2 linked regions of the Homo sapiens genome follow. The protein of the gene in region 1 interacts with the protein of each later gene in a pairwise test. Each region holds a gene or a part of one and is shown on either strand. Other genes may lie near its edges. The genes, in order: RXRG and CKMT1A.

The links.
Region 2: the proteins of RXRG (region 1) and CKMT1A interact in binary tests that used the Homo sapiens proteins (3 or more experiments, as listed by UniProt).

What each region holds. Positions count from the first base shown.
Region 1 is NC_000001.11:165,407,026-165,414,327, reverse strand, and holds part of RXRG (retinoic acid receptor RXR-gamma), read left to right. Parts: intron 1-3,218; coding exon 3,219-3,379; intron 3,380-3,496; coding exon 3,497-3,626; intron 3,627-4,637; coding exon 4,638-4,770; intron 4,771-6,009; coding exon 6,010-6,101; intron 6,102-7,302. UniProt on the Homo sapiens protein: Receptor for retinoic acid. Retinoic acid receptors bind as heterodimers to their target response elements in response to their ligands, all-trans or 9-cis retinoic acid, and regulate gene expression in various biological processes.
Region 2 is NC_000015.10:43,696,812-43,699,977, reverse strand, and holds the end of CKMT1A (creatine kinase U-type, mitochondrial isoform 1 precursor), read right to left. Parts: intron 1,965-3,166; coding exon 1,830-1,964; intron 1,338-1,829; coding exon 1,212-1,337; intron 1,006-1,211; coding exon 889-1,005; 3' UTR 756-888; downstream 1-755. UniProt on the Homo sapiens protein: Reversibly catalyzes the transfer of phosphate between ATP and various phosphogens (e.g. creatine phosphate).

The sequences.
Region 1 (7,302 bases):
TCTATGGTTTGGGTACTTTAATAGAAAGTTGGACCCAATTTTTGCTCCTGCATTTTTTAAAAGAATGTGGAGAAACAGAAAGAATAGTGAAAAGCTGAGTAGTAAAAATTAGGAGAGGGAAAGGAGCTCTTAGGGAACTTTCTGAAGAGATTGGCACCATTTACCCTGACAAAGGGAAGGCAAAGAAGTGAATCAATTCCTCCGCTGACTATATAAGGGGGCGCATTTCAAAAGGCTACTGGATAGCCTGTCCACCGCCATCATTTCTGGTCTTGATTTATAGAATTTGGGGCTCAGTTTGAACACTTTCTTGAGGACAAGAATAATAACATCCTGGAGCAGATAACAGAGAGACCATGGAAATCACACAGATAAAGAGATGGAATTGGGGTAGGTACAGAATTTACCTGCCTGGGATCAGGGGCCAGGACCTGTTGCCCTTTTAGGATAAATAATGTTAAAGCTAGAGTGGACATTTTCTATTCTCTAACGTAACACGTCCATTTCCTGAAAGACAAATTAGAGGTTTGGAGAGCCTAGCCCACACAAGCCCACACAGCAAGCACATGGCAGACCCTGTATAGGACTGGGACCCTCTGATTAGTGGGCCACCTCAGGAATTCTGGAATGTCTATTTCCATGATTTCTTGTCATATACATGTAGTTTCAAGACTGGTGAATGGATTGCCTTTGAGGCAGTTCATGGGCAGCATTGGTATCCTTGTGAGCCCTGTGTGGTCTTTATTAATAGACCTAGCCCAGTACCTTGGAGGCAGTACTGAGAGGTTAGAGATGGGCCCAGGAGGAGCCATTGTGGGTGCATGTGCTGGCTCCATCATGGCCTACCACATGCCCTCAGATATGTTACTAGTTTCTCTGTGGCTCGTAGTATGTCAGAGCATTATTGTGAGGATTAAATGAAATGTAATCTATCTAAAATGTTGAGCATAATTCCTGACACAGAGAAAGAGCTTCATAAATTTTGCCTATTGTAATAAGTGCGAAATAAACACGTGTTGGATGAATGGTTAAAATCCTTTCCTAAGGCAGAAGTTTGGTTTTATTTTTAATCATCCAGGGTTCCCTGGATGTACCCTGATGTGTGTCGTAACAGTAGCTCAGAATGTCTGACAAGTAGAAGCTACCCCCCAATAACAATATATGACTCCTCATTTATGACAGGAAGACTTAAGGCACAAAGAGGAAAAGTGAATAGCAAAGGGTTTGCTCATACAAAACCAGAATTCGAATCAAATTCCCTGACACCAAGGATATTTTCTCTGAAGCTTGAAGGTTATTTTCCTTGAGTGTTACAAATCTCTAGAAGACATTGATTGAGGACCACGAATGAAACTTAACTTAGTTTGCTTTCCCTCATCTTTTAAAGTCAAGACAAATAGAAGCTCATAACCTACCTTTAAAAAAATTAATACAAGAAGCATTCAACATTTCCCAGTAAATCCAAATATAATAAAAAATACATATTATAGTTTCTACATGTTGTCAGTGAATGAAGTCTGACAGAGTGAGCAGAAAGTAAGGATGAGACAGAAGGAGGAAGAAAACAGGAGAGAGAGGAAGAGGCCAAAAAGGGAGATGGAGAGATGAGCCCAAGGGGGTAAAAAGACACCAAAGGCAAGAGGAAATAACTATTTGTATTGAGTTTTTATAATTGCTTCATTCATCCTTACGATATTATTTCAGTTAACTACTGAAGAGTACCAACCTTAACTAAGTACCAGCCTTAACTATCTCAGTTAATCTCTGCTTCACAGATAAGGGATCTGGGGCTTACTAAGCTCAGTCATATGGCCAATGCCATTTAGCAAGGAAGGGGTAGAGTTATATGTGAAAAAGTTTTCTTTGACTCCAAGGCACAGGTTTTTTCCCCTCTTTTCACTATTTTCTCCTCTCTGTTCTCTCTCCCTTCTGTTTCCTCTTTTTCTCACCCTGTTTTGTTGTCTCTTTCCCTTATTCCTTTTCTTCTTTCTACCCTCCTTGCCTCTCTCTCAATGACACAGTACCATTCTTGTCTTGAAGCTTTTTGGCGTATCTCCACTAAGTTTTGGAGCATAAGTTGTGTTTTTGCAGTCATACTCTTCTCTGACCTACCTTGAGAGACTGATATGGCTCGCATGACAAACTAGATGTTCGGCATTGCGATTCCAGTCCATTCTGCAGCCTCTGGGGCTCATTATCTCCTCAGAGAGTAGGAGGCACTCTTGCAAGTGGACTATGGGGAGGAAGGGAGAGAAACAGAAATAGGAGCTGCTAGTGGAGTAGCTGTCATGGAGTTTCAGGCTAGTCACCTGCTTAAAGGATAATTTTCTTGACTTTGGGGATGTAAAAAATGTGTTCTAATATTGAATTCTGTTTATTGCTGCTGTGAATAAGATGGAAACTACAGCCTTCTAGATGATGGAAACTAACCCAACAGAGACTTTTCTCCTGATGAAGAGCATAGAATTGGAGGGGGCAGCAGTCTGCTTTCAATCCTAATGTATAGACATGGAGGGTTCTGAGAGTTGCACTGAACCTTGATGAAAACCCTAAGCTTTGGAGAGGCTGAGATAATTTCAGCCTACACCTTTGCCTATGTACCCTCCCCAACCTCCAAAATGAGCCACTGATTCTGAAATGTCATCTAGGTGACATCCCTCCACCCCTTCACTTACTAAATACCCACAGCTGGCTCCCTAAAGATCTTCCCTGACAAGTCGGATCAGGTGATGTTGTGTTCAAGCTGGTGCACTAGGGGCAGACCTAATGGGACGTGAATGCCAAGGATGATGCATAGGATCTGACAGAGGGAGTTTTTAAAGTAATGTGCTTGTTACTTAACTATTTCATGCTCACAGTTTTTTAGAGGCAGCAGGTAGAGCAAGAATGTGGGGATCTGCAGGGATAGCAAGGAGTGGTTGGCCCATTAAAAGAGAGGATACAATTAGAGTTTATTAAAGCTTAAAATGGATACTTCCTAGTGTCGTCACCATAATGCATTGGAAAGAATATGCACTAAAGAACCCCTCATTCTCCTTAGGCATAAGCAAACAGCTTTGCTTTCCTTGTTTCATCTGTCAACATTCCAACATCCCCAATTCAGGATCATAATGATTCCCCTTTCATAGATGAGTAAATTGAGGCTCATGTGGGTAATAAACTTTCCCACTGTTGTCCTGGGCATTATGGTAACCTCTGCATGTCCTGCTGCATGTCAGCTGTGCAAGAAGAAAGACAGAGGAGCCGAGAGCGAGCTGAGAGTGAGGCAGAATGTGCTACCAGTGGTCATGAAGACATGCCTGTGGAGAGGATTCTAGAAGCTGAACTTGCTGTTGAACCAAAGACAGAATCCTATGGTGACATGAATATGGAGAACTCGGTATGTGCTCTTAGACACACATGTGTGTTCCATTTCTTGGGTAGGGCTGGAAATGGGAGAAAGGGGTGTATTTGAGTCCTGGGACCTGTGCCTCACAGTACTTTGTTCCTTTTTCAGACAAATGACCCTGTTACCAACATATGTCATGCTGCTGACAAGCAGCTTTTCACCCTCGTTGAATGGGCCAAGCGTATTCCCCACTTCTCTGACCTCACCTTGGAGGACCAGGTCATTTTGCTTCGGGCAGGTAAAGCACATTGGCTGCCTTTTTTCCTGGGACAATTTTGAAATTGCTCTTGGGATCCTAAAAAAAGTAGCCTGATGGAGCTGCAACATGTCCAAGCTATGTACCATGCTGATGATGAAATAACCCTGTGCGGGGTTGTTCATTCCCAAAGGAAGCATCGTTAATGAAGAAGTGGGACTCTTTTCCCATGCAAATTTTACCACGGCTTTATAATTTGCATAAATTTTAAAAAGACTATTAAATCATTTTATTGAGGATAATTTGAAGCAGTGGCTCATTATTGTAATGAAATTGGCAAATAGAGGTATTCCCATTTCATAGGTGAGATAAAGAAGCCAAAGATGTTTGCTCAAGCTTGTACTAGACGGGTTCCACTGTCTTCCTATTTTAAGACTCTATGTGCTGTATTTTCTTTTGCCTCCTATTTCTGGGACACTTGCAGGCCGTTGACATATGCCATATCTCCTCTTTGTCACTGAGCCAGCAGGGAAATTTCATGAAGATTGGCTGAGCATTGGGAACCAGTCCACTCATTCATCCCTGTTAGATAATGAGCACTCACTGAGTGTCAGCTGAAAGCTACAGACTGTGTTGGGTGTTACTAGACAATGCCAAAGAAACAAAACTAGGTTGTCAGATCCTAAGGGGAAAAACTGCAAGGTATATTAGCTTTATCCACCATGGCAGCTAACATAGTGACTATTATCCGCTAAATGTTCAACCCACATTTGTTGACTGATTAAAAAAAAAAAGAATCCTTGTCTTCAAGCTGTCATTCTGGGTTGCATCTGAGAGAGAGTGGGGGGATGTGCAGAGCCATAAGTCAGGAGACCCCAGTCTTATCCTTTGTTTCTTCGCTAATGAACTGTGTCATCTTGAACTAATTCTTAACCTCCCTAGATTGTCAATTCTGCTTGTGTTATGTGGGATAATAGTACATGCCTTGGGTGATTATAAGTAAAGAAAGAATGTGTTCTGTTTTCCCTCAAGACCTCCTCCTTATCCTTGCAGGGTGGAATGAATTGCTGATTGCCTCTTTCTCCCACCGCTCAGTTTCCGTGCAGGATGGCATCCTTCTGGCCACGGGTTTACATGTCCACCGGAGCAGTGCCCACAGTGCTGGGGTCGGCTCCATCTTTGACAGGTGTCTCTCTCCTGCTTCCAGTATTTGTGTGTATTATGTGTGTGTGTGTGTGTGTGTGTGTGTGTATACACATGTGTACATACATGAATTCTCACGTGGGCATGAACCTCTGGGTAGTGCTGGGATGGAGGATGGGCAGCCCAAACAGTTAGCTACACATGACCATGCAGAGACCACTAGGCACATGAAACTATAAACCTGGGGAATGAGGGAGAGATTAAAAGAAAGATTGAGATCACAATAAGATGGAGCCACTCAGAGGCCAGCACAGTTGCCAGGCAGTTGGGAGAACCTATTCTCCCAATGGATTTCCTAAGGAGAGATTAGATCTTGACATCAGCTAGTAAGTTGTGGGTGGAGAGGGTGAACTGTTTATCCTGGGGGCCAAGGATGGGAAAGGGATCAGGATCTGTCCTCAAGAGGCCAGGCAAGATGGACTGTTTATGCTGGGCTCTGGATGATCTCAGAAGGAGGCCTGCAGCAGGAGCAAACCCATCTTCGTCAGGCAGGGATACCCTGACAGAAATTCTGTGCCTTAAATGATACTAAAGGAAAATTAAGCCATCTGATAAGGAGTTGAATAAAATGAGTAGTTAATGACTTGAGAGTGAGAGGATGGAGAACTGGTAAAGAGGAGAATTAAGTTGAAATTAATCTCTCTGTCCAATGCCAGGGCCCCGTTGTCCCTTTCTACCTCCATCGTAAATGGTCTTCTTTGGTCATGTGCACATCCACTGAGCTGTATCTATTACTTCCCTGCCCTTTCCCACATGTTCCATGTAGAGCCCAACATGGTGTTTGGAATGACTCATCCCCCTTCGTGGTAACCGGACCTTTCTACCAGTTCATTGAATGCTGCCCTCTGCTGTGTTTTTCTAGACATGCAATCCCCTTACCTTGCTGTGCCTGTTGCGTTTCTAATTTCCAAGACTTCCATGATGCCTTTCCATTTCCCTGCTTGGAGTTCATTGCTTCCTCTTTGGAACCCACTTGGACTTTGCTCATGGCAGTTATATTCCTGGGCATCGTGCTGCTGCTAGTTTTTAATGTCTGTTTCTTTAGTTAAACTGTAATCTCCTTGCAATGAGGGGTTGCATCTTTTTCATTTCTGTACCCCTAGTAACTGGTACATCATCTGGAAACAGAGTGGGCTTATAAAAATTTTGGTTGAATTCATTTTATTGGCTCTTGGCCTGTTACTTACGGTTTTCTCATTACCTGCTTGTTTCCTGTTAACAGAGTCCTAACTGAGCTGGTTTCCAAAATGAAAGACATGCAGATGGACAAGTCGGAACTGGGATGCCTGCGAGCCATTGTACTCTTTAACCCAGGTAACCGCCCTTCAACCCCAGGGGATGTGTGTGTTCAGCCCTCTTCCACGGTCAACCTCCAGTGCTCCCATGTTATTGGTCCTCCATCTCAGCTGAGACACAGATGGCAGAGCCAGGAATCCAGGAGAGCTCACAGTGTCAGCTAGAGCCATTTTGGAAAATGTTTTGAATGAGTGTGGCAGGCGCGTGTCTGGGGCAAGTGGGGAAGATGAAAGATGACGGTGGCCCAGGGTGGCAGTGAAGGGGGTGGTAAAAAGCGATCACATTCTGGATATATTTCTAGATAAAGCCACTGTGATTTGCTGATGGATTGAATATAGAATGAGAAAGAAAGAAAGGAGTTATAGATGACTCTCTGGGTTTTTTTTTTTTTAAGTTTTGTTTTCCTGAACAATGGGAAAAATGAAGTTCTTATTCACCGAGATGGGGAAAACTCCATGAGGAGCAAGTTCTGACAGCGGGTGGGTAGGAATCGGGATCTTGTCTTTGGACATTAAAATAGGAAATGGGTAGTAGATATCCAAGAGTGGCTGCCCAGGAAGCAACTGCTCATATGAGTCTGGACTTCATGGGAGAAGCCATGTGCATCTGAGAGCTGTCAGCCTCTGCCTGTGTAAGGCTGTGACACTGGGGTGAGATCATCTGGGGAGATAGAGCAGAGAAGATGGCTGGGGACTGAGCCCTGGGGCATGCCAACATTTAGAGGTCAGGTAAAAAAGGGAGAGCCAGCAGAGGAACCTGAGAAGGGGCAGGCAGTGAGATAGGGACAGAATCAGAAGGGTGGTGTCCTGGAGGCTCGAGGGAAAATAGTCTTTCAAGAAGGAGGCGATCAGCTCCAGCAAACCCTGCTGTGGTCAAGAAAGATGAACCTTCAGAATTATGTAGTCATTCATGCAGAGGCTTTATCTCCAGAATTAGGCAGTTAGTTCATCAATGCAGGACATGTGCCAATTCAGCTTTCGTGCCCCATCTTATGACTCAGTCCATGCTCAGCACATAATAGGCACTCGGTAAATGTGTGCAGGTAATATTTCGAGAATGGTCCGGATAAAATTAAGCTCTCCTCCTTAGAGTCAGTGGTGGGTACATTTGCCTATTCATGGAGTTTAAAATCTTTGCCCCAAGAGTTTGTTGGGTAAATTGGGCACAGAAAGAAGAGCAAGGGGGCATGAATGACCAGCTTTGTTTATTTCACACTTGT
Region 2 (3,166 bases), on another chromosome or scaffold:
GCCAGGGCCCAATGGGGACTACATGCATGCACTGATTCCTACCCCTGCCCTCAGGTGGTGTTTAGTCCCATCCAACTATCTAGTCTCGCCAGTGCTCAGGCTGTGGCTGTCACTCCTGAGCAAATGGCCTTTCTGAGTCCTGAGCAGCGACGAGCAGTTGCATGGGCCCAACATGAGGGAAAGGAGAGCCCAGAACAGCAAGGTGAGTTCCCAGCTGCACAGCTTGATCCTCCATCTCCTGACCCAGAATCAAACCCCTAATTTGGTGCTGTCTGGCTCTTAGAGTGCACCCAGGGAGATCCCTGGAGTGAAGGAGTCTACAGGCAGAGCGCTAATTTCCAAGTATCAATGCTCCTGGAGAGCTGAGTTGTGATATTACTCCCATTCCCTGTCTATTATAGGTCGAAGTACAGCCTGGGGCCTCCAGGACTGGTCACGACCTTCCTGGTCCCTGGTATTGACTATCAGCTTCCTTGGCCACCTGCTATGAGCCTGTCTCTACAGTAGAAGGAGATTGTGGGGAGAGAAATCTTAAGTCATAATGAATAAAGTGCAAACAGAAGTGCATCCTGATTATTTTCAGAAGCTGATGAGGAATATGGGTAAAATGTTAATGCTTTCCACCCACCTGAGAATCAGTGTTCCTGGGTTGCCATATCTGGAGTCTCTTTCCATCATAAATAATCCCACTGCCTCTTTTCATTTCCTGAAGGCTGCTCCCTCCTCACCCCACCATTAGAAGTAACACAGACAGCTGCAGCATAGCAAGGAGTCTTTACTAGGATGGAGGCAGGGGATGCGAGGGCAGGTCCAGAGCAAGTAGAATGGGCCATCATTAGAATGAGCAGAACTCCTTGGAATCTTGAGTCATCAGCTGGCGATGGGGAGTTAATGCTTGGTGTGGATGACAGGTGTGGGGATGCGGATATCCTGGCCTCTCTCCAGACGCCGTTCACAATCAATCAAATAGTTTACTCCATCGATGACCAGTTGCACCAGCTCCACCTGAAGGACACTAATCTTTGATCTCTGCTTCCTACAGTCTGAGTTTTTCTTTATCACTGACTGACTTGCCTGCTCATTTCCAATTGCCTCCCCACTCAACCTGAATTTCATTTCAGATTATGTTACATCCCGGAGGCTCACTCACTGCCATATTTCAGCCCCCACAGACCTATACCTCTCCTCATCCTAATCCCTTAGGATCTCACCTCTGATTTGCCTAGTCGGTCCAAATTAGAAATATCAAAGACACCGCCTGTGGCAGCAGTGTCCACTCCTCCAGTACCACGCTTTTGGAGTCTTAGGTTCTCCAGGATCTTTGGGAAGCGGCTATCCTAGAGAGGAGATAGGGATTGGGAGCAGGGTCAATAGAGGCAGAGACTAGTCCTACCTGAAAGAGCCCTGAACCTGCTCAGAGCTCTGTCTCCTGAACTTTTTTTTTTCCTTTTTTCTTTTTTTTTTTTTTTAGACAGGGTCTCTCTCTGTCACCCAGGCTGGAGTGATCACAGCTCACTGAAGCCTCGACTTCCCAGGCTTAAGTGATCCTCTCACCTCAGCCTCCACTACACCCAGCTAACTTTTGTATTTGTAGTAGAGATGGGGTTTCACCAGGTTGCCCAGGCTGGTCTTGAACTCCTGGGCTCAAATGATCTGCCTGCCTTGGCCTCCCAAGTGTTGGGATTAGAGGCATGAGCCACTGTGCCTGGCCTGTCCTCTGACCCTTTAGCCACAACATGTTTGGCTCCTCTCCAAAGGGTCCACTCCCTCCCCATCCACAACCCACCCTTCCTTACTCACACCCCTCTGTAACCCCACAACTCCTTTACTTTGCTTAGCAGGGGCAGTTTGATGTGCACTCCTGCCCGAAGTCCAGTGCCCAGGTTAGATGGACAGGTCAAGATGTATCCCAAACGCTCATTCCACATGAACTCCCAGCCACGTTCTTGGATAAGTCTCTCCACCTGAGTCCACAAAGTTTTTATTAATGAAAAATCAGGGATATTTCATTAACCCTGGACCCTCCCTTAGCTAGACCCACAAGAACACTAGAAATTTGTCTAGAATAGAAACTTGGCTGTGAATGAATGACATTGGTCTTTTTTTAAATGAAAAAGGTTTGTTATTGTTTTCATGCATGCATGATGCAAAATTATGATGTGCATAATAATGAGATTGTGAAAAAATATCTTATGTGGAAGAAGAAAACTCGAAGGCGTGGTGTATTAAGGATGATCTAGGGAAATGAACAGAGGTGGTAAACTGAACTGAGAGAGGACTGATTATTCAATGAGGTCTGCATGCATCGATTATCTTTGCTTTGCTAATGAGCCTAGAGCTTGGAAGGGTCCTTTCAGACAGAAGATGAAGGTGTAAGCTTTGCCAGGAAGAGGTGAGATAACGTTCTATTAGCTGTGAACGGAGCACCTGTGTGAATGCAGAGAAAGATGAAAACAGAGCAGGAAAGCCAGATTCATAGGAATAGGGGACAGGGGGAAGGCATTTTGCTTCCATTAACCATGTAGTCATGAAGATGACTATTAGAGTTCAAGAGACAAGGGATCTAGCAGAGTGATGATCACAAAGACCACTATCCAACATGAGTAAAGGGATCCTGTTTGTAGTTCAGAAGGAACCATGCCACCAGGGATATCTTATGTGCTGAACATGGGGGGAAACTCTTCCATCCAGAATAATATTGCAGCTAACACTTTAACACTTATTAAGCACTTACTGTGGACCAAGTACTTTACCTGTATTTCACTTAATCCCCACAACAACCTAAAATGTAGAAAATCTCATTATCCCAATTTTACAGATGAGGAAACTGAGGCATATAATTTAAAGGTACTTCCCTACCCACTCATAGTCAGAATATGTTATCTATTACTTGCCAAAAATAGTAGAAACTTCTCAGAATCTAAAAGAGGAGCTCTTTTTCTTTGCAAACCTAAAATAGAACTGTATGTTTGAGAACATACAGTAAGAATTGAATTGAGTTTATGGGGATTTCTAATGTAGACTTGAATACGGAGACCCAATCCATGTAGGATTGATGATTCAGTTCAACCTCTCATCTAGAGCCACATATTCTAGAACTCGAACCATTCTATCCTCCACCTTCCCCAGTCTCCCTCTGAACTCTCAACTTAAAGCCTAGACCCGA